Linked DNA regions of Homo sapiens: region 1 is linked to region 2. Evidence: fine-mapped expression QTL. A gene starts in region 2. The other region holds a variant in brackets. All regions are shown on one strand. Distances are from middle to middle. Region 1 overlaps INTU (inturned planar cell polarity protein). Region 2 holds the start of INTU (inturned planar cell polarity protein).

The links. PIP is the estimated chance that this variant, and not a neighbour inherited with it, causes the effect.
Region 1: its variant is fine-mapped to the expression of INTU in iPS cells (iPSCORE, PIP 0.95).

The regions. Positions count from the first base shown.
Region 1 is chr4:127,650,789-127,663,642 of GRCh38, forward strand. It overlaps INTU (inturned planar cell polarity protein), which reads left to right. Exons shown (of 16, transcript NM_015693.4): 3 at 5,848-5,933; 4 at 12,593-12,796. Among named protein-coding and RNA genes, the nearest start is that of INTU, 24 kb to the left of the region's middle. RefSeq lists enhancers at 4,559-5,159, 5,160-5,758. The variant A/G (reference allele first, on the strand shown) is at 5,129.
Region 2 is chr4:127,624,054-127,636,245 of GRCh38, forward strand. INTU (inturned planar cell polarity protein) reads left to right here and starts at 8,904. Exons shown (of 16, transcript NM_015693.4): 1 at 8,904-9,127. The coding sequence starts at 8,982. RefSeq lists enhancers at 8,552-9,091, 8,754-8,933.

The DNA of each region.
Region 1 (12,854 bases), 27 kb after region 2:
TCGCCACACTGACTTCCACAATGGTTGAACTAGTTTACAGTCCCACCAACAGTGTAAAAGTGTTCCTATTTCTCCACATCCTGTCCAGCACCTGTTGTTTCCCGGCTTTTTAATGATTGCCATTCTAACTGGTGTGAGATGGTATCTCATTGTGGTTTTGATTTGCATTTCTCTGATGGCCAGTGATGAGCATTTTTTCATGTGTTTTTTGGCTGCATAAATGTCATCTTTTGAGAAGTGTCTGTTCATGTCCTTCTCCCACTTTTTGATGGGGTTGTTTGTTTTTTTCTTGTAAATTTGTTTGAGTTCATTGTAGATTCTGGATATTAGCCCTTTGTCAGATGAGTAGGTTGCAAAAATTTTCTCCCATTTTGTAGGTTGCCTGTTCACTCTGATGGTAGTTTCTTTTGCTGTGCAGAAGCTCTTTAGTTTAATTAGATCCCATTTGTCAATTTTGTCTTTTGTTGCCATTGCTTTTGGTGTTTTAGTCATGAAGTCCTTACCCGTGCCTATGTCTTGAATGGTAATGCCTAGGTTTTCTTCTAGGGTTTTTATGGTTTTAGGTCTAAGGTTTAAGGCTTTAATCCATCTTGAATTGATTTTTGTATAAGGTGTAAGGAAGGGATCCAGTTTCAGCTTTCTACATATGGCTAGCCAGTTATCCCAGCACCATTTATTAAATAGGGAATCCTTTCCCCATTGCTTGTTTTTCTCAGGTTTGTCAAAGATCTGATAGTTGTAGATAAGCGGCGTTATTTCTGAGGGCTCTGTTCTGTTCCATTGATCTATATCTCTGTTTTGGTACCAGTACCATGCTGTTTTGGTTACTGTAGCCTTGTAGTATAGTTTGAAGTCAGGTAGGGTGATGCCTACAGCTTTGTTCTTTTGGCTTAGGATTGCCTTGGCGATGCGGGCTCTTTTTTGGTTCCATATGAACCTTAAAGTAGTTTTTTCCAATTCTGTGAAGAAAGTCATTGGTAGCTTTATGGGGATGGCATTGAATCTGTAAATTACCTTGGGCAGTATGGCCATTTTCACGATATTGATTCTTCCTACACATGAGCATGGAATGTTCTTCCATTTGTTTGTATCCTCTTTTATTTCCTTGAGCAGTGGTTTGTAGTTCTCCTTGAAGAGGTCCTTCACATCCCTTGTAAGTTGGATCCCTAGGTATTTTATTCTCTTTGAAGCAATTGTGAATGGGAGTTCACTCATGATTTGGCTCTCTGTTTGTCTGTTATTGGTGTATAAGAATGCTTGTGATTTTTGTACATTGATTTTGTATCCTGAGACTTTGCTGAAGTTGCTTATCAGCTTAAGGAGATTTTGGGCTGAGACAATGGGGTTTTCTAGATATACAATCATGTCGTCTGCAAACAGGGACAATTTGACTTCCTCTTTTCCTAATTGAATACCCTTTATTTCCTTCTCCTGCCTAATTGCCCTGGCCAGAACTTCCAACACTATGTTGAATAGGAGTGGTGAGAGACGGCATCCCTGTCTTGTGCCAGTTTTCAAAGGGAATGCTTCCAGTTTTTGCCCATTCAGTATGATATTGGCTGTGGGTTTTGTCATAGATAGCTCTTATTATTTTGAAATACGTCCCATCAATACCTAATTTATTGAGAGTTTTTAGCATGAAGGGTTGTTGAATTTTGTCAAAGGCTTTTTCTGCATCTATTGAGATAATCATGTGGTTTTTGTCTTTGGCTCTGTTTATATGCTGGATTACATTTATTGATTTGCATATATTGAACCAGCCTTGCATCCCAGGGATGAAGCCCACTTGATCATGGTGGATAAGCTTTTTGATGTGCTGCTGGATTCGTTTTGCCAGTATTTTATTGAGGATTTTTGCATCAATGTTCATCAAGGATATTGGTCTAAAATTCTCTTTTTTGGTTGTGTCTCTGCCCGGCTTTGGTATCAGAATGATGCTGGCCTCATAAAATGAGTTAGGAAGGATTCCCTCTTTTTCTATTGATTGGAATAGTTTCAGAAGGAATGGTACCAGTTCCTCCTTGTACCTCTGGTAGAATTCGGCTGTGAATCCATCTGGTCCTGGACTCTTTTTGGTTGGTAAACTATTGATTATTGCCACAATTTCAGCTCCTGTTATTGGTCTATTCAGAGATTCAACTTCTTCCTGGTTTAGTCTTGGGAGAGTGTATATGTCGAGGAATTTATCCATTTCTTCTAGATTTTCTAGTTTATTTGCGTAGAGGTGTTTGTAGTATTCTCTGATGGTAGTTTGTATTTCTGTGGAATCGGTGGTGATATCTCCTTTATCATTTTTTATTGTGTCTATTTGATTCTTCTCTCTTTTTTTCTTTATTAGTCTTGCTAGTGGTCTATCAATTTTGTTGATCCTTTCAAAAAACCAGCTCCTGGATTCATTAATTTTTTGAAGGGTTTTTTGTGTCTCTATTTCCTTCAGTTCTGCTCTGATTTTAGTTATTTCTTGACTTCTGCTAGCTTTTGAATGTGTTTGCTCTTGCTTTTCTAGTTCTTTTAATTGTGATGTTAGGGTGTCAATTTTGGATCTTTCCTGCTTTCTCTTGTGGGCATTTAGTGCTATAAATTTCCCTCTACACACTGCTTTGAATGCGTCCCAGAGATTCTGGTATGTTGTGTCTTTGTTCTCGTTGGTTTCAAAGAACATCTTTATTTCTGCCTTCATTTCGTTATGTATCCAGTAGTCATTCAGGAGCAGGTTGTTCAGTTTCCATGTAGTTGAGCAGTTTTGAGTGAGATTCTTAATCCTGAGTTGTAGTTTGATTGCACTGTGGTCTGAGAGATAGTTTGTTATAATTTCTGTCCTTTTACATTTGCTGAGGAGAGCTTTACTTCCAACTATGTGGTCAATTTTGGAATAGGTGTGGTGTGGTGCTGAAAAAAATGTATATTCTGTTGATTTGGGGTGGAGAGTTCTGTAGATGTCTATTAGGTCCACTTGGTGCAGAGCTGAGTTCAATTCCTGGGTATCCTTGTTGACGTTCTGTCTCGTTGATCTGTCTAATGTTGACAGTGGGGTGTTAAAGTCTCCCATTATTAATGTGTGGGAGTCTAAGTCTCTTTGTAGGTCACTCAGGACTTGCTTTATGAATCTGGGTGCTCCCGTGTTGGGTGCATATATATTTAGGATAGTTAGCTCTTCTTGTTGAATTGATCCCTTTACCATTATGTAATGGCCTTCTTTGTCTCTTTTGATCTTTGTTGGTTTAAAGTCTGTTTTATCAGAGACTAGGATTGAAACCCCTGCCTTTTTTTGTTTTCCATTTGCTTGGTAGATCTTCCTCCATCCTTTTATTTTGAGCCTATGTGTGTCTCTGCACGTGAGATGGGTTTCCTGAATACAGCACACTGATGGGTCTTGACTCTTTATCCAATTTGCCAGTCTGTGTCTTTTAACTGGAGCATTTAGTCCATTTACATTTAAAGTTAATATTGTTATGTGTGAATTTGATCCTGTCATTATGATGTTAGCTGGTGATTTTGCTCGTTAGTTGATGCAGTTTCTTCGTAGTCTCAATGGTCTTTACATTTTGGCATGATTTTGCAGCGGCCGGTACCGGTTGTTCCTTTCCATGTTTAGTGCTTCCTTCAGGAGCTCTTTTAGGGCAGGCCTGGTGGTGACAAAATCTCTCAGCATTTGCTTATCTGTAAAGTATTTTATTTCTCCTTTGCTTATGAAGCTTAGTTTGGCTGGATATGAAATTCTGGGTTGAAAATTCTTTTCTTTAAGAATGTTGAATATTGGCCCCCACTCTCTTCTGGCTCGTAGGGTTTCTGCCGAGAGACCCGCTGTTAGTCTGATGGGCTTCCCTTTGAGGGTAACCCGACCTTTCTCTCTGGCTGCCCTTAACATTTTTTCCTTCATTTCAACTTTGGTGAATCTGACAATTATGTGTCTTGGAGTTGCTCTTCTCGAGGAGTATCTTTGTGGCCTTCTCTGTATTTCCTGAATCTGAACGTTGGCCTGCCTTGCTAGATTGGGGAAGTTCTCCTGGATAATATCCTGCAGAGTGTTTTCCAACTTGGTTCCATTCTCCCCATCACTTTCAGGTACACCAATCAGACGTAGATTTGGTCTTTTCACATAGTCCCATATTTCTTGGAGGCTTTGCTCATTTCTTTTTATTCTTTTTTCTCTAAACTTCCCTTCTCGCTTCATTTCATTCATTTCATCTTCCATTGCTGATACCCTTTCTTCCAGTTGATTGCATCGGCTCCTGAGGCTTCTGCATTCTTCACGTAGTTCTCGAGCCTTGGTTTTTAGCTCCATCAACTCCTTTAAGCACTTCTCTATACTGGTTATTCTAGTTATACATTCATCTAAATTTTTTTCAAAGTTTTCAACTTCTTTGCCTTTGGTTTGAATGTCCTCTCGTAGCTCAGAGTAATTTCATCGTCTGAAGCCTTCTTCTCTCAGCTCGTCAAAGTCATTCTCCATCCAGCTTTGTTCCGTTGCTGGTGAGGAACTGCGTTCCGTTGGAGGAGGAGAGGTGCTCTGCGTTTTAGAGTTTCTAGTTTTTCTGTTCTGTTTTTTCCCCATCTTTGTGGTTTTATCTACTTTTGGTCTTTGATGATGGTGATGTACAGATGGGTTTTTGGTGTGGATGTCCTTTCTGTTTGTTAGTTTTCCTTCTAACAGACTGTACCCTCAGCTGCAGGTCTGTTGGAATACCCTGCCGTGTGAGGTGTCAGTGTTCCCCTGCTGGGGGGTGCCTCCCAGTTAGGCTGCTCGGGGGTCAGGGGTCAGGGACCCACTTGAGGAGGCAGTCTGCCCATTCTCAGATCTCCAGCTGCGTGCTGGGAGAACCACTGCTCTCTTCAAAGCTGTCAGACAGGGACATTTAAGTCTGCAGAGGTTACTGCTGTCTTTTTGTTTGTCTGTGCCCTGCCCCCAGAGGTGGAGCCTACAGAGGCAGGCAGGCCTCCTTGAGCTGTGGTGGGCTCCACCCAGTTGGAGCTTCCTGGCTGCTATGTTTACCTAAGCAAGCCTGGGCAATGGGGGGCGCCCCTCCCCCAGCCTCGCTGCCGCCTTGCAGTTTGATCTCAGACTGCTGTGCTAGCAATCAGCGAGACTCCGTGGGCGTAGGACCCTCCGAGCCAGGTGCGGGATATA[A/G]TCTCGTGGTGCGCCGTTTTTTAAACCGGTCCGAAAAGCGCAATATTCGGGTGGGAGTGACCCGATTTTCCAGGTGCGTCCGTCACCCCTTTCTTTGACTCGGAAAGGGAACTCCCTGACCCCTTGCGCTTCCCAAGTGAGGCAATGCCTCGCCCTGCTTTGGCTTGCACACGGTGTGCGCACCCACTGACCTACGCCCACTGTCTGGTACTCCCTAGTGAGATGAACCCGGTACCTCAGATGGAAATGCAGAAATCACCTGTCTTCTGCGTCGCTCACACTGGGAGCTGTAGACGGGAGCTGTTCCTATTTGGCCATCTTGGCTCCTCTGTTTTGTTTTTACTGTGGGTCTAAGTGGTTAGATTCAGTTTTGTCAAGTACAGTATTTGGTTCATGCTAACAAATTTTCCATTTGTTCTTTGGGTTTACATAATTCTCCCAATTGTATCAAGAATAAAAATAGTTATTTTTTAAAATATTCATAGGTTGTATTATTTATGGTGCAATAATGGGCAGTATTATAGATTAAGAAGAGTAAAGTTAGGAGAGTAGCCCTGCCACCAATGAGCTGTATAAACCTGGACAAGTTCCTGCTTGTCTGCACCAGATTTCTCACTGTACTTTGAGGATGTCAGAGTAGCTGTTTAATGTTCCAATTCTAGACCTCTATGGTTTTTAGATATTCATAAAACTATCTTTTATTGTTATTCTGGTTTCAGGTGATGTCCTTGTTGCTGTGAATGATGTCGATGTTACTACTGAAAACATCGAGAGAGTTCTGTCTTGCATTCCTGGACCTATGCAGGTATGGACATTCTTTTTCTATATTTTATGATGTTACATAAAATAAATATATAAATATATCGTGCACTATTTTCCTTTTTAAGCGTCTGAAAAGTATCATGTATAATGGATGAGTTACACTGATACTTGCCTATTTAAGAAAATTTAGCTCTTGCTAATATTATTAGCTTCTGGAGATTATTCTAAAAAGAGAGAAAAATATCTACAAGTAAAATTCTACATAAAGCAGTAACAGCAACAGTAATGAAAACATACATAATTGCAAACTTGCCATTATAACTACCATATATGCTTGTGACAATCTGGTTCCTAGAAGAGTCATTTTAAATAGTCAGGGAGTTTTCTGTTCTCTGACTTACTAAGATCACTGTTGCTATAATGTTTTTTTTTCCAATGTGATTTTATTTTAAAAACAAATCATACAAGTTTCTTGATTTTTTTTGTTATTTAATTAAGCTTTTCTCCTGGACTTTTGTTTGGCTACTTAAGGAATTATTTTTCAATCCTTGTAGATAGAAATAAATTTATTTTATAAAAAGTAATTTTGATACCCTAAACATTGACATTGTGTATCGTAGATGATGTTTTTCAGTTATTAGGGGTATTTTGCAAGTGCTATACCTTTTGGTAACAGAGTATACCATGAATACTCTGTTCTAGATAGCATCAGGAATTAGCATTCTCTTTTTGGGGGGATAGGGAAGATTATATGCTTTATGTGGGTTAGAGCAGGGGTCCCCAAACCCTGGGCCACGGACTGGTAGTGGTTCGTGGCCTGTTAGGAACTGGACTCCACAGCAGGAAGTGAGCAGTGGGCAAGCGAGCAAAGCTTCATCTGTATTTACAGCTGCTCCCCATCGCTCACATTAGTGTCTGAGCTCCACCTCCTGTTAGATCAGGGGTGGCATTAGATTCTCCTAGGAGCACGAACCCTATTGTGATCTGTGCATGAAAGGAAGGGATCTAGGTTGTATGCTCCTTATGAGAATCTAATGCCTGATGATTTGTCACTGTCTCCCATCACCCCCAGATGGGACCATCTAGTTGCAGGAAAACAGATTCAGGGTTCCCACTGATTCTACATTATGGTGAGTTGTATAATTATTTCATTATATATTACAATGTATTATAATAATAATAGAAATAAAGTGCACAATAAATGTAATGTGCTTGAATCATCCTGAAACCGTCCCCCAACCCTGGTCTGTGGAAAAATCGTCTTGCATGAAACCAGGCCCTGGTGCCAAAAAGTCTGGAGACTGGTGGGACAGAGGACCCATCAGGCAGTGAGAGGATGAAGTCGTTTTTGGATTGGTCAGGTTGAAGAATAGAATCCCTGATAAATCAGAATCTCAGCTGCATCTGATTTGAGATTCTGAAATAATAAGGCACATGATGAAATTCCTTATTTTCTGGGAAACAAGGTTTCCCTAATGCCCATTTATTTGTTTTAAACATACTTTGTATGCACATGTATGTGTGCGCATGCACACACACACACAGATGCTCTGTAAATTTAGCTATCTTTGGAAATGTAAAATGAAAGTGCTGGAATAACTATGGTAGCTGAGACCAGCAATGCCTAGGAATGGATAGCGAGATGGAGATGGAGATGGGGTGGTGTTTGAAATAGTAACAATCAGGGGGACATCAGCCAGCCATGGTGCTAGAGTAGGTTGTACTGTTACCCACTTTAGTCACTAGATGTGGGGAGGTCCAACAGAGGGTACTAGGGTACTTCAGGGTGCTCAGACAGCAGCTACTTATTGATTAATAGTGAAGAATTGCAGTATTTTGACAAGTGAGTCAGCTTCCCCCAAGTGGAGTAGCTATGTATTATCCTGAGTGAGGGATCCCCTTTTCTTGCCTATGTTGGTTGCAGGTGTGCTTCCAGTATTGCCAGAGTTCAATCATGTCTATTCTTTCTTCAAAAATATGAAAAGTTATGTTTACAGCAGAATCACATTATACTTATATTTAATTAACCTTTGCAAATTCAACTGTGCACACTTAGCAGAAGAAAAAGGGAGAGAAAGAAATTAGGATTTAATATTTTGGACCAGTTCCATCCACAATTAATCCATCCTTGTTAAACATGCAAGAGGAGTCAAGTATACATTTATTGTATGCACGATTTCTATTAGTATGAAATAATTATACAACTCACCATAATGTAGAATCAGTGGGAGCCCTGAGCTTGTATTCCTGCAACTAGATGGTCCCATCTGGGGGTGACAGGAGACAGTGACAGATTATCATGCATTAGATTATCATAAGGAGTGCACAACCTAGATCCCCCACATGCACAGTTCACAACAGGTTTTGTGTTCCTGGGAGAATCTAATGTCACCACTGATCTGACAGGAGGTAGAGCTCAGGCAATAATGTGAGTGATGGGGAGTGGCTATAAATATGAATGAAGCTTCGCTCACTGGCCACTCACCTCCTGCTATGCCACCTGGTTCCTAATGGTTCTGGTACCTGTCCATGGCCTGTAAGAAGATGCCCTTATCCTTAGGAGATACCTGCTGAAGTACTTAGGGACAATGTGTTAAAATACCTGCAAATAATTTGCAGGTTCAGCCAAGAAACTTAAAAAATACATATAGAGAAGAGAGGAGTATGGAAGGAAAGGAAAGGAAGACCAGAGAGAAGAGACAAAATGAAGCAAATGTGACAAAATGTGAGCAATAGTGCCATTAGGTGTGGGATTATGGGCAATCATTGTTCTCTTCTTACAACTTTTCTGTAGTTTTAAAATTTCTAAAATAAAATGTTGATTTAAAGAAGAGGTTTTCGAAATTTTAAATAACAAGAACAAAGGTGCAAATACCCATCTAATTGTTGACTTTTGTGACCCTGATCCGTTTCTGCAGCTCTGTGCTCTCATTCATTTAACAGGTACATAATCATGCTTGTAGTACATCGTCTCTTCCCGTCTTTATCCGGGAGCTTGGGTCCAAATTTTGCAGATGACGAAGACTGATTTCATTTAGTACTGGGCCATAGCTGGCTTTTTTAGAGCTTTGGAGGAACCTAACTCCTTTTCTAGGAGAACAGCCTGAAGATTATTAGTCTTGGACTCTTCTTTCTCAGGTAGTTCTTAGGCCTAAAGGAGGGGGCAAAGGCTTCTTAAAGGAAATGATTCTTGAGTGGAGTGTTTTAACTTTTATTATTTCCTTGTTACACAGAAATGATACATATACTGTGGAAAAATTAGAAAACAAACTAGTAAAATTTTTTAAATATTTGTAAATCTATTCTCAGAACCCAGAAGTAACCATTTATATCAACATTTTAAAGTGCAGGACTTACATGCAAATCAAATTTGCATTTTAGGAATATATCACTCTGGATGGGGGAGGCATATGCAAGACAGGAGGTCAGGAAACCAGGTGGTTGGGTTTGCAGTAGTCCAGAAGAGAGATGATAAAGGCCTGAGCCTTTATTGACCGGGGATGGAGGAGGAGATTAGATTTAAGATAGAGAGGAAGGAAAGAGGACAATATTTTCTACAGGAGAGAGAGAAGTCCAAGAAGCCTTCCAAGTTTTGTCTTGAGTCACTCAGTGAGGTGGCCCAAGAAGAGAAGAGGATGGAGGAGAGATAATCTGCTGAGCCAGTCAGACTCGATTCCCTCAGAATTTTGACTAAGGAGTATTGAAATCATCTGCCAGCTGTTAGCCAACAGGGAAAGGACAACACATGCAGAGAGCAGTGTAGATGATGGGAGAGACGGTGCAGACTGAAGCAGAGGTGACAGACTGGTCAGCTTCCACAGCTGCTGCAGATTCTGACAGCCTCCCCAGGTCCCATCTGTGAAGAGGATGGTAGCTAAAGGGGAATCAGAGGATTTCTTTGTTTGGTAGATGATTTCTTTGTTTGGAAGAGACATTGCTTTTTAAATAGGATGGGCTAAAGACTGAAGTAGAAAGAAAAGACAAAGCAACAAGACTTTGGAAGTGATGAGTCATAGAGAGTGCGTCCTTGGGTCTGAGGAAAGGCTGGGCAAACCGCACAAAGAAGAGGGACATAGGACACGAAGGATCCTGAACCTTGTACCAGGTTAAAGTCTCACCGAGTAATAAGAGAAAACCCTTTATAAGAAGCTTCATGTAAACTAACTTATGTTAAGTATCATTTAATAAAAGTTTTTCCCTATAAAACATATAATATCCCTAATATTTATGTATATCAACCTATTTTTTAAAATAGCACTTAACTCTTAATTTGGTTATCTGTCTCACCCTTTACCATTTTATCAAGGCAACCAGATTTCCTGACATTTGTAGCTACTTAACATGTAAGCTTTTAAAAATGTCTTTTTAAAGTATAATTTTATTTGTATTATGGAGCCAACTTTACTTAAATCAGAAGAATAGTGGCTGAAATAGTTCCCTAAGGAATTTTAATGGATGGTTCGGTGGTGTGTGTTTTTGTTTGAGTTTTTGTTGTGGTGAGACAAAAAGGTCCTTGCACCACAGAAAATAAATGATGTTGTTTGCCAAGTATAACACTAGTTTTCAAGTATGTTGTTTTTCACCAAGCATAGCAAACCAATCTTAAATTTGAGGTTGTTGCTGCTGCCTGAAGAAAATTGGTGAATTTTTGAGTCTATTTTTGGTAGACTTAAAAATTTCCCTTTTTTTATTTTTGGTAGGTTGCACCCTACCTCTCCACCCATAAGAATCTCAGCTGGGAAAGATGCCTTCCTTGTTCTGAGATGCGTTTCTTTCTCTGAGGACCCGCTTTCTTGTCACCACTTCTTATGCACAACTCTCATAGACACTCCAGCTTCATCTCTGTGACACCTGCTTCCCTAGGATGTGACTCATCTCATGCTCCCTCTGATTTGATTTCTCCCCTTCTGTACCGCTCACACATCTCCACTCAGAGCTCCTTCCTAAAGCCCAATGCCAGGGGACAATCTTCAGAGCTCCCATCTATCTGTCACAAAGTCTATACTCAGGAATTCCCCAAAGAGTTCTCAAATTTCCAGGGAACACCACCAAAGTCTTCCATATACTTTCTTTTGGGTACTCCTAAATCCTCATTCTCAGATAAAGGAATTTGGGGTAGATACCCAGTAGAGGGGTTGCTGGATCTAATAATAGATCTGCTTTTAGTTCTTTTAGAAGTCTTCATACTGTTTTCCATAGAGGTTGTACTAATTTACATTTCCACCAGCAGGGCATAAGCGTTCCCTTTTCACCACGTCTGCTCCATCTATTGTTTTTTGACTTTTTAATAATGTCCATTCTGGTTGGAGTAAGGTGGTAGGTACCTCATTTTATTTTAACTTGCATTTCCCTGATGATTAGTCATGTTGAGCATTTTTTCATGTTTGTTGACCATTTGTATATCTTCTTTTGACAAATGTCTGTTCAAGTCATTTGCCCACTTTTTAATGGGATTACTTTTTTCTTGCTGATTTGAGTTCTTTAGAGATTCTGAATATTAGTTTTTTTGTCAGATGCGTAGTTTGCAACTATTTTCTCCCATCCTGTAGGTTGTTTACTCTGTTGATTATTTATTTTGCTGTGCAAAAGCTTTTTAGTTTAATTGGGTCCCATTTATTTATTTTCGTTTTTGTTGCATTTGCTTTTGGAGTCTTAGTCATAAATTCTTTGCCTATGCCAGTATCCAAAGAGTACATTTTCTTCTGGAATTGTTATGGTTTCAGGTCTTAGATTTAAGTCTTTAATCCATCTTAAGTTAATTTTTGTGTACGGTGAGAGACAGAGTTTCATTCTTCTATGTGTGGCTATCCAATTTTGGTACTTCTTTGAAATGAACGAGTTATCTTTGACCAATTGGTATCTAGACAAATATTTCCTTTTCCAAGGATAGGTAATTTTAATACTTCATCCCTAAGTACTTTGAAATGTATCTCCTAAGAATAAGGGCATCCTCTTACACCAGGGGTCCCCAACCCCCAGGCCACAGACCAGTACCAGAACCATTAGGTAATTGAGAAATGGAGGCTACCTTTCCATACCTGTGGAAAATGGCCACATTCTGGACTCTTACCAATCTTGACATCAGGCCATGAAATTAAAACTCTCTTGATAAAATTGATAATCTTCTTAGAGCCATGTTGGTCTAAGATCCAGCATGCTGATAGCGTTTACTTTCCTTGGCCTTTGTTTTAAAGAACCAGAAAGAATGTCTGAGAGAAGAATATTTGAAATACCACCTTATTTGAAAGGAGAGTTAACTTTGGTTGTGTGAAGTCACTCTTAATGCTGAATGTCTTCCTTCTATCTTCCCAGATAAGCCAGTGCTATCGGCATTGATATTGTGGTGTTATTCTTTTTGCACTATCAGATCATACTAATTTCTGGTTTTTGATGGCCTTTCTTATTTTTATAGTCAACAATTTAGACTGCAATGATTATGTTTAATTAAATGAATTTTATACAGAACATTATAATTCTTATTCAATAAATATTTGTGGTAATATGTATCAGACACTCTCCTAGGAGCCGAAGATACAAATATAAATAGAATACGTAGTCCCAGCCATCAGGAGCACTCACTCTAGGATGATTTATATATACTGTACATACCTGGGTGTATGTACATGCACAGATCCTTCATTGTGAAAACTGCAGCTGATTTTCCCTTGTCGAAAAGTCAACACATTGTTTTAATTTTTAAAGGTGAAACTGACATTTGAAAATGCATATGATGTGAAAAGGGAGACGTCCCATCCAAGACAGAAAAAGACACAGTCCAACACAAGTGATTTAGTCAAGCTTCTCTGGGGAGAAGAGGTTGAAGGTATCCAGCAGAGTGGCCTAAACACTCCTCATATCATTATGTATCTCACACTACAGCTCGACTCAGAAACCTCAAAGGAAGAGGTGAGTGTCCTCAAAAGTCCAAAGGAAATAAGTTTAGTCAAAAGCCCAAAGGAAAAAG
Region 2 (12,192 bases):
TTATGCAAAATAGACTAACAAATATTAAATCCTGTGGTTACAGTGATGGGTTTATAGAAGAGAAAGAAATAGTCCACATGAAGAGCAAATTGTCTTTCAATTTTAAGAGAGGATGGATGAAATACCAAGCAGTTAATGCTGCTTTAGTTCTAGGAAGGCCTGGCCTTCATAAGACGTTGTAGGGAAAAAGAACTCTTAGAAATATATCTAAAGTGTCTCTTGAATACGTTTGTGGCGAGAAAGAGTAAGTGGCGCTTCGTAAATATCTGTCAGGGGGAGGTTTATGTGAGCCCTCTCATCTGTAAACGTTTCAAGTGGCCCTTTTAAGTCTTTGTACAAAACCATATGAGCTGTAGAAATCCTGTTCTATTGGAAGTGTGAGTAAAAAAGAAAGTGTGCAAGGGAGAAATTGGGTGTCTGCGATTTCAGAGCTGTCTTCTGAAACCTGCAATTTTCTGCAGTTGGTTTCCCCCAACCCCCAAAGAGCCCCTGCCATATAAAAGAAAATATTATTAAACGAGCTGTGAAAAGGATATTCTGCTAAATTCCCAAAGAAAATTCCCCCTGCATTTGATAAAATTATAGTCCAGGAATAAATCCCAAGAAGCATTAACTAAAAACTCATTCACAGCATGACTTTGTTGTAAAGCCGGGAGGGGTGCTAATTTTAAAAGCTTAAGACCTTGCTGCAACAGAATTTCTTTATATTTCTCATGTTTTAAATGTCAAGTGCCAAAAAATTTCAAACTGATGAACACTTTAGGGTTTCAGATCCAAGGCACAAACCTGTCCGAATAAACCAGGCAAAAGAATATGTTTAAGCTATAGTCATCAAGACTGAGATGATTATTTCGGAAGTAGTGGAATATTTTTAGAATAACCTGCTCAGTATTACAATGAAAAACTACTTTATCTGAATTACAAATAACTGCTCCCATATGCTGGAGGAACCAATGGAATCTGGAACTATAAATATGTTTGTCAGTATCATGGCTAACAGTGCTTTCTTTTTAACATTATACGAAAATCTTTTTGCTACTGCAATGCATTACTCTTATTAGTGGTTATTTATTATTTAATGTTTTCAAACACGCACTTAAAAAACTTAGACATCTGTAGAGGTTTCTCTTTCATTTAATGCATCTGTGTTTCACACAAGTTCACATCTAATCAAATGTCTTTTGCTTGTATATATACAGATTTGTTTAGGCATAATATTATAGAAATTAGGGAGATTTGATAACCCTTAAATCATACTTGTACTTATCATAGTTCTCATGAAGTATATCAATGCATGGCCTATTTTAAAAGTATTACTGTTACAAAACTTTTATGTTTTTCCTTTAAAACATCCATCGTAAATTATATACAAAATTTTGGCAATTGCATTAAAGAGACTAGTAGCCATGTTATTAAGAGAAAATAACAGACTGTTTTATTTTAACGTGTTACTTTAAAGGGTAAGTCTTGTGAGTGTGTCCTTTTTTAAATTACTTGTATATTTTCCATTGCAAATATGGTTTTTAAAATGTAAAGCATTAAATTGCTGTGCTTTTGAAAAAGATACTTCAGCCAAACCAAAATTAAAGCAAAGCTGCAAACTTTTCTCTGCATGAGGTGCTAACTTCAAAATGTCAATTGTAAAATAACAATAGCTCAGCAAAATAAATTTAACTATTCTGCTTTTTGAAAAAAGTTACACATAAGTTGTCTGAGTCAAGGAAAAGCATCAGTATTGTATTTCTCAGTTACTTAAGTTATTTTTCTGTCATCTTGATTATAAGAAATAACCAAACAATACTATTAATACTCAGTATTTTGCAAATTTTTTTAAAAAAACATATGCACAATACTATTGCAAATTAATCATTTCCTTGGAGTCCTAATTCCTCTGTTGCACAGTAGTTGTGTGACTTGGCAAGACTTTTAACTTATTTATATTTTCCCCTGTTCTTTCTGTAATATAAAGGGATAATACCCACCTCACAAGGTGTTGGTGTGAATTTCTGATGATATGGAAGTGCTTTATAAAACTAAAGTTCTGTCAAATATAAGGGATTATGGTAACAACTGTTCTATAGTAAAAAACTAAAACAAAACACAAAATGATAGTTCCTAAAGATTCTGAGAAGATTCAGCCTGGTGACTTTGCCCAAGGCCTAATAGCTAATGAATGGTGCTGGTCCAGGCTGGAGTGCTGGTTTTTTGACCCCTAAGCCAATGGAGAGAGTGAACTAGAGGTGATTCTCAAAATTTTTGACGACCCAAATTTCATACTCTTACCAAAGGTGAAAATATGCAAATTCAAAATACCGCAACTATCCAGAATTCTCAGGGGGTATGCCCAATTAAGTAATATTCCTGTTAGTAAAAGAGTATGTAATATCTTTTTAAGATCTAAAAATAAAAACTAAAATGAATAATTAAAAAAAACAGCTTTTGAAAATATAATATAAAGTACACACTGCTCTGTTTCTTAAGGTATAAGGCATTAGATTTCAAGGGTTATCTCATTTGATTTTCAGCAACCCTATAGAGTAGGCAGAGATTATTATTGCTGCCTTCAGATGAGGAAACTGACTTTGTCCACTTCCACTTGGTTATTGGTGCCAAAATCAGGATGAGAACTTGGATCCCCTGACTGGAGAATGCATGGCACTTACAGATTATCAAGTGTTTTTTACAGTCGATGTCAAATTATTGTAGGATTCAACAATGCTGTGAATTTTTTTGTTTTAGGTGCTACTTAGGTCATTTGGCAGTTATTTATAAACTATGGTTTTTTGTTAATTCTCATGTCTGCCTTTTGTTTTCTACTTTCCTCTTCATCAGCAGATTGTCAGCCATCAACAATTTCCAGGGTTGTTGTATTCCTGTTTTAAGGGAGCCTTCTTTCCTTCTGATTGGCAGCTATTGATCTATAGTGGTAGAACAGCTTGCCAAACTTGTTATAATTTGTAAATGAAGATCTAAAATGAAAAGAAATAGGAGTAAATGAATTGGGTTTTGGGCTTGAGCTTTGTGCCATCTATTTTAGTCTCACTTGTGCTTCTGGATTCTCATCTGTATTCCATTACTATTCAAATGTGGAATATATGGTCTTATTGCAGGTAAGTTGTATGCATTTTAACAAGTAATTCAACTTTTATAGAGGGAAATGAGAATTTTAGACCATAATGCAATTCTGTACCTTTAGGATTGCTGAAATGTTATTTTGATATATAAACTCTGAAATCTGAAATCTTCTACATAATAAAGTCTCACTTTCTAAAATGCTATTTTGTTGGTCTACCAAGTTATTTATTCATATTTTAAAAATAATTATGGCTGTCATTATTACCACATAGTTCATAAAGTATTATTATTTCTGTGTTCACAATTAAGGCAATATTAGTTTCTAACAAAACTCTTACATAATTTTTACCTTGTAGTTTAAATTTTTAATGAATATGACCTCATGTGGCCCTATTTTCATTTACTTCTCATTGCCAGCTTCTATTACTACTAGAGAAAGAGCTCCTGAACCTGCTAACGATACTAAATATTTAATTATGTCCTTTTCTGGTGTATTTTATGTCAGAATTGTAGTTCGCCTAATCAAGATGGTAATCTATGGAAATAAGGATGTCAAGTCTCATATGCATTAAATTAAACATATTTGGGCTTCAGAAGATGGCTGGTCATTTTGTAGTGGAAAAGAGAAAATGAAAATATACCCCAGTCTAAATCTCTTAAATCTTCTTGCAATTGCTAATTATGAAACACACAGAATATTCTTATAAAGGCCCTGAAAATGGCATCCTATTCCTTTCCTTTCTTCATCCTTTCAAAAATATCTAAGCTTATTAAATATTAGCAAGGTTAGTAGAAATATGATATGTAAATTTAGAAATATGACTAATTGATACTACAACCTGAAAATTAAAATAAGGATAAAAATGATTGCTATTATTTCTTCTTTGATGAAAGATAAAGCGAGGTGGTAAATTTTGTTGTTGCTCACTTTTATCCATTTAACTAACACATGGAAGTAAATTAGCCAAGGGAGTTAACGTAACTCAGGAATATAGCTAACGTCCTAGCAGGTATACTTTCATGTGGCATTTTTTGCTCCAGTTCAACCTTGTGACAAGTGAAAGACTGAAGAGAAAAAAAAAAAAAAGACCCAGTCAGGTTCTCCAGGAGATTGTCATTTGGTGGCAATGATAGATGTATTCCTATTTAATTTAGATATAAGACAGACTGATATTAGTTATAACCTAATTTTATGGGATAGATTATGAGGAAAGAGTAGAAAAAGGAATTCTTACTGAGGTAGGAGATGTGTCTAGGAGGGCTTTTGGGAAAAGGTGCTGTTTGAATTGGATCTTGAAGAAAGGTGTAGTATTTCAACAAATGAATTTTGGGTAAGTATCATTCCACAGTAAGAGAACTGTGTGAGTAAATGAGATAAAATAGCTGTTTTATTGATGCTTTATGTGCTAGGTACTTTACATGCATTAACTCATTAGATTCCAAACAGTCCTGTGAAGTAAGTACCATTTTCTGAATTTACAGATAAGGAAAGTGAAGCTTGTGGAGGTCATTTGCTCAAGGTTACGTGGATGATGGATTCTAGAACAGGGAGAGAGGTCTGTCTGCCAGGCTTAAATTCAGGAGGTGGAAGTGGGTTCCGGCCTATTCAGGGAATGACTAGTGGGCCCGTATGCATGAAGCACAGAACTGAGGGAAAGTTTAGGGCAGTTTCTCAAGTTTGCTGAATCACTGGGGGCACTTGTTTAAAATAGAGATTTCCAGGCCCCTCTCCTGGAGATTCTGATCCTGTTGATGTGGAGCAGGGCCTCAAAATCTGTATAACAAGCTCCAGTTGATTCTTTTGAATAGACAAGTTGATCAGCTTGATTAACTTACGATGTAACATGGAATAAACCATTTAATTCTGAATTGGTGTTCAATTGTTTGTAGAATTGGAGAAAAAAATTTAAAAGAAGCTACACAGTTTGGACTTTGTTCTCTATTTAAGGAGGTGCCATGCAAGGTTTATGAGGCAGGGTATGAAACTACTAGATGCTTACAAAAAAAAATTGATGAAAAATTTGTAGGAAGAAAATGTGATATTTTCCTAAAATTTGTAAATGTCCTTTTTTAATTTCTTATTTTATTTTTTACTTCCAATAAGTTGCTTTTAAAACAAGGAAAGGTTAACTTATTAAAGAGGTAACTAAAGCACTTTTTATTTTGAAATGGAATCTTAAATCATTTCTAATGTTTAAGATTGTGGTGAAAGTAAGCATATATATTTTACCATGAAACTCAAAATAATGAGTATAGGGACTCCAGCTTTTTAAAATAATATTGTTTCTCTGATTTTAAAAGTAATACATTTTTTGTTGGATCTCAATGCTAATGGAAATATTTGTTTCCCTTCCTTCCTGTCTCCACTTTCTTCAAACTTCCGACCCCATTACTTCCTCCATCACGTTCAGCTGGCAAGGTTGCAGCCTACTTACCAGACGATAAACACTGTCACATGGAGACTGCCTCAGCTTCCTGCCTGAAACTGGCAAGTCACCATCCACACCAGCACCCTTCTTTGGCTCTTTCTTCTAGTTTTAGGGAAGAGGTGTCCAGGGAGGTCATATCCCTCCTTCTGTGCCTTGGATGCTATCCCCTCCTACCACCTCAAGGACCTCCTGTTACCAGAAAGGGGTCCCAATCCAGACCCCAAGAGAGTTCTTGGACCTTACCCAAGAAAGAATTCGGGGCAAGTTCATAGAGTAAATTGAACGCAAGTTTATTAAGAAAGTAAAGGAAAAAAGAAGGGCTACTCCATAGGCAAAGCAGCGGCATGGGCTGCTTGACTGAGTATACTTATAGTTATTTCTTGATTATATGCTAAACAAGGGGTGGATTATTCATGAGTTTTCTGGGAAAGGGGGAGTAGTACCCAGAACTGAGGGGTCTTCCCTTTTTTAGAATATATTAGATAACTTCCTGACATTGCCATGGCGTTTGTAAACTGTCATGATGCTGATGGGAGTGTCTTTTAGCAACTAATGCTCATTATCCTCACTGCTCACTGTACTCTAATTATGATTCGCGTATAGTGAGCAGTGAGGATGACCAGAGGTCACTTTTGTAGCCATCTTGGTTTTGGTAAGTTTTGGCTGGCTTCTTTACCGCAGCCTGTTTTATCAGCAAGGTCTTTGTGACCTGTATCTTGTGCCGACCTCCTATCTTGTCCTGTGACTAAGAATGCCTAACCTCCTGAGTAGCAGCCCAGTAGGTCTCAGCCTTATTTTACCCAGCCCCTATTCAAGATGGAGTCGCTCTGGTTCAAATGCCTCTGACACTCCTTTTGCCCATTACCCCTTTACAAACTCCTCCTCCTGTTCTTCAACTTTAGTAACATATAGACCTCTTTTAAGGAAAAACTATTGTGGATTTCCATGGATGACTTAAGTTTTTTAATTATAATTTTAAATAAATGAGGTATAATCTGTGCTTTATAGCTCCTATATAAGATGAAAACAATTTTATGAATTAATACAAATAAATTACAAAATGTAATCGCTGTTATAACACTATAAAAACACATTTAGAAATTAAAACAAAACCATAAAACCTAGGAAATTCAAATGTATATAGTTTAATGTACATTTGTACATGTAATATACAAATTCAAATGTACATAGTTTAATGTATATTTGTACATGTAATGTACAGTTAATGTAAATACAACTAAACTTCAGCTTAAAAGTATAAGCTGCATACTGCAGCTTGTTTGGCTGTGAGGAAGGTAAAATATACTATCCTGGCCATTTAAGTTTAATACACTTGAAAAACAGCAAGTGCCTTTGTGCTGCTTCTTAAAAGCAACAGATGAAGCTCCCATGTGAAAGACACCCTCCCTATACTAGAAAAATGTAACATTCTTATTCTCAAGGGCATAGAAGTGAAACCAAGAGAATTCTGTACAGACCTTGTTAAAATAACTTATCTTTTAAGCTTCCCAATTTAGTTTAGTTGCTTCTTCACAACTAACTATTCTTTGTCCAATCCAGTATATAAGTTAACTGACTCTAACTGCTTCTTTGGGTCTTCATTTCTTTATGAGGGCTCCCCTGCCATGTAAAACTTGGATTCTAGAGCAAGGAGAGAGGTCTGTCTGCCAGGCTCAAATTTGCGAGGTGGGAGTGGGTTCCAGCCTATTCAGGGAATGGCCAGTTGGCCTGTATAGATGAAGCACAGAACTGAGAGAAAATTTAGGGCAGTTCCCCAAGTTTGCTGAATCACAGGGGGCACTTGTTTGAAATAGAGATTTCCAGGCCCCTCCACTGGAGATTCTGATCCTGTTGATGTGGAGCAGGGCCTCAACATCTGTATAACAAGTTCCAGTTGCTTTTCTTTTGTTAATCTATTTTAGGTAAGTTTAATTCTCAGGCCCAGCTGGGACCCTAAGAAGATGGAGGTAGAGTTTTTCTGCCCCTGCAACAGCTACAATTCAGGTTCCTTTGAGTTCTCCATGCATATACCCATACCGGCCATGTGATGACTCATCTCCCATTACTCTTTCTCTGTTGGAACCATGCCATAATAACAATATAAATTAATACTTCCTCTAAGAAATTTGTCATGGCCCCACGTATACTACTTTGGTTTTTTCTGGATATTCCATTAGAACCTTGTATTTATTGTAATACTTATCACTATGTTATAATTGCCCATTAGAGAATCCCCAGCACCCAGCCTTTTAGATCATAAAATAACATTATATCCTTTTTTTACACGCTGCAACATGAACATTTCCCCCATGCTTTACTCTTTGAACACATTCTAGTTAAAATCATAATCATCATATTTTATATATATTTAACTTTTCCCCCATTATTTGACATTTTAAGATTGCTTTCAGCTTTTCACTTTTACAAATTTTATAAATTTGCATCCTTTCTCAGAGTAGATATCTAATAGTTGAATTACTGGGTTCTGAGGGAGGAAATTTCATGTAATGGTTATTGACTTAGGTTCATTTCTTGGTTGACTTTGTTGACTGCTAGCCATGTAACCATTAGTAAGATGCATAACTTCTCTAAAGCTTAGTTTCCTTATTTAATATAGAGAAAATATTTACTTCATAGTATGTGAATGCTCAGCATTGTATATGAATAAAGTGAGCAGAGCCAAGGCTGACTCTCAATCAATGCTAGCTGTTATTTTTGTACTTAAAAAATACTTGATATAGGTATTCATAAATAACAGGTAGATTTTACCTGTTTACACTTCCAACTTTAATAATGAGAACACTTAATTAGATTATAAAATTTTGAGTTAGAAAATGAACATGAAGTTGATTCCACAGGATTGCCACTCATTTGTGGCACTCTACAATACCCACTTGGGATAACCGTGAAAATGTTTGCAATTGCGAAACAATATGAAACCCATAAAACAATGGAGCGTATTTACATTAACACCTAGATCGCGTTGCTTAAAAGCGTCCATTACTTGCACGGATGAGGTCCTAAGGAAAGGTAAAGTGCGGTTTCCTTCACCTCGAAGGAAATCCAGGCTGACCGACAGCTGTTAGGCATTAGAAACACAGGACAAAGAGCAAACTGGATATCCAGCACTGGAAGAAAAAGGTGAGAAGCCCAGTGCATCTCCGCCTGTTTTAACAGGTTATGCTGCTCTAAGGAATTGCGTTCCGGAGAGCGTAAGCGGTGAAGTTTTAGCTATTTCTATCCTTCCAACTGAGAAGCCCTCCTGGAAGTTTCAGCCCATTGGCTGCTTTCTGTTCTCCCTGTTTCTTCTGGGAAGCTTCTCCGTCTCCCTGGCAACGCGACCTGCCACCAATTGCAGCTAAGGATTGGTGGTCACATGGCCTCTGCCCCTTCCCAAGCAGAGGCAACATGGCGGCCTTAGCAAGCTATAGCTGCGAGATTTGAATTACTCCACTCGTAGCTATTGCATTCCTGACGATGGCCTCTGTGGCTTCGTGCGATTCGCGTCCGAGCTCAGACGAGCTCCCTGGAGACCCCTCTTCACAAGAAGAAGATGAGGACTATGATTTTGAAGATCGGGTCAGCGACTCGGGTTCATATTCCTCAGCGAGTAGCGATTATGAGTAAGGTTTTCAAAGAGGGACAATTAATCCCATCCCATCAATCCAGAGAATATACACGTGGGCTGGGGGAACTGCAAGGGTGTTGGCGTGGTTGGAATCGAGTATTTGGGGTTCTATAATAAGTGGGATTTAATTGCACCACGTTCCATTGTATGGTGGTGTGAGCAGAAATGACGATGCCATTCTTTGCTACTGTAGGTTGTTTTTTGTTTGTTTTGTTTTGTTTTTTCAATGATTCTTAGATGAGGAGAATCTCCTCTTTTTGGTCATGGGCTCTGTCTAGGCCATAGGAGGATATATCTGTAACAGCGTTCAAAAAACTCTGTTTCGATCGCAGTGTCTTGATTCTTTGGTGTGACCTTTGTGGCTTAATCTCTTTAGTATTTGGAGTGGAGAGACACCCTACGCGTTTTATAAGGCAGTTGTTAAATTTATGTAGATTTTTTCTGTTATGGAAATGAATAGCTATATAACAGAAGGAACGCCCACCCATAGTCTCACCATCAAGGACAACCTCTCAGCACTTCTGGATATTTCTGCTGTATTTTCCTATGCATCTCCATGATTTTCTTGTTTTCCATTTTACGTCATAATTTAATTTTTAAAAATACAGATACCTAAAGGTTTCACTTTCTTAATAATGCCATGAAAAGGTTATTTTGATTCACAGTATTCAGTGCTACTTCATTTTTAAGAAAAATCTACCCCTTACTGCTATGGATTAAGAACTTTAGAAAAGTCAACTAGCAGTAGCTTGAAGAGAATGACTAATCGTGAAAAAGTTTTGGTGCCAAAATGTCAACTAACCCAGTAATGGACAACCATACCTGGTCAGTTTTAGGATGACATTTTATGTGTATTTAGGAACAACAGTTACAAATCATTTATATGTATGTAGGAGCAACTGTTATTTGGCAATTGTTTTTACCTATCAGTATGTAAAAGATTTTTATCATTGCCTTTAAAAGTATGGTGGGGAAACCTGTTTAATACATTCTTGAAGACTTAAACAAATTTTAAAATATCGTATTTTTTTGTAATCTGCTGTAGGCATTAAAAAAATAATTTTAAAATTCATGATTATTACACAAGGCTGCTGGAAGGAAATATGAATTACATAGAACCTTATTTGGTCTTGGTATGTGAAGCCATAGACAGTGTAAGACTCAAACTCTTGGCTTCTCCACATTTTAGAGTCGCATACTTTTAGCCCAGAAAGAATCTATGATTCATGTATAGTTGCACAGCTGAGTGTTGTCAGTGTGAGAATTCAAGACGCCTGATACCTAATGGGCCACCATGACTTTGATGGGATTAAAATAGTGAACTTTGTTTCCTAGGAAATGACCAATCTGAGGACCTTGTGATAGGAGAACTTGTCACTTAAAAGAATAAAAGTATTTCATGATTCAAAATACATGTATGTATGTTATATTTTAGCTTTTAAAAAATGATCATTAAGCTTTTCACATGTCACTAATCACGCCACATGTTCTAGTGTCTTTATCCTCCTAATAATAAAAGTATAGAAAATCCCTATCATAAGATGTTTTGCTGGTCTGTATTTCAAGTCCTACCAAGTTTCAAATTTTAAGTCTGTCCCTTCTTGATTTGTAGGACATGAGGGTTAATTTGCTGAACTTACCAGGAAGGCTTATGTTCGGTTCTTCCCTTATGGTAGATGTTTACTTCCCTAAGCTGCAGTCATCATTACAAACAGTGGCCTTCCCAACTTGTACAGAACCACTCTTTAATCAAAGGCACAGGAATGCCAACCTTAGTCTTTCTCATTAAAGCAAAGACATGAATTTCCTATTGTATTTCATGGACTACGTGAAGCTTACTAAGGAAGTTGTACTGCATATTGACTCACATAAAGTATCCTGAATTTTCAAGGTTTTAGTTAACTGCGTGTTCTTTTTAGAAGTTACTGTTTCATACATGCTTTGTACCTGAGCTGTATGTGATTGTCAATATAGAATTTAAAAGTTTATCATCTTGGAGATAAAATTACATTATGGTAAATTCTGGTAGAGTTCTTTTAATAGGTTTGTTTTAGGTTTGTTAGAGAATAAGAGTTTATATTGCTGCAGTATGTCTTAAGTTGACACATGGGCACATACCCTGGGAGGCTTCCGAGATAATACTGGTGGGTTGGTTGGGTTGAGGGAGCCATTAGCTAGTTTTAGCATTAAGATAACAGAAATCACACATTCACCTGCAACAATGCCAAGTTACCAGCTAATATGCCTAGTTCATGTTACAGAGAGTTTGTCAATGTTGTGACTTGGATTTTTAATTTTTCAAAGTGAATTTTTTGTTGTTGTTACATCAGTTTTAAAACTGGCTGATGGAGAGAAACAGGAATCATTTTAAATGAGATATTAGCTGTTAAAGCTAAGGAACTTCCACCTAAAACACAAGGATTGGCTGGAGAAGGGAGGTATGTCCTTTAAATTTTTTTCTGGGACTTTAAAAATAGCTTCATTGAAGGATAATTTATATACAAAAAACTGCACATATTTTTAATGTACAATTTGATGTTTTAACATGTATACGTCTGTCAAGAAAATGAACATATCCATCTCGCCTAAGAGTCTCCCCATGTACCTACTTAAGTCCATTTATGCCTCTCCTGATAACCATTTATCTGCTTTTTGTCACTCTATAGGAGTTTGTAGTTTCTAAAGTTTCATAAAGATGGAATTGTGCAGTATGAATGTTCTTTTTTGTCTGCCTTCTTTTATTCAGCATAATTACTTTGAGATTCATCCATGTTGTTGCCCCCATTAATAGTTCATCTCTCGGCTAGGTATGGTGGCTCATACCTGTAATCCTGCTTTTGGGAGCCAACGCAGGAGCATTGCTTGACACCAGGAGTCAGAAACCAGCCTCGGAAACATAGTGAGACCCCCATCTCTAAAATAAAAAATAAAAAAATTAGCCAGGCATGATGGTATGTGCCTATAGTCCTGCAACTTGGGAGGCTGAGGCGGGAGGATCACTTAAGCTCAGGGTTTCAAGGTTGCAGTGAGCTGTGATCACACCATTGCACCCCAGTCTGG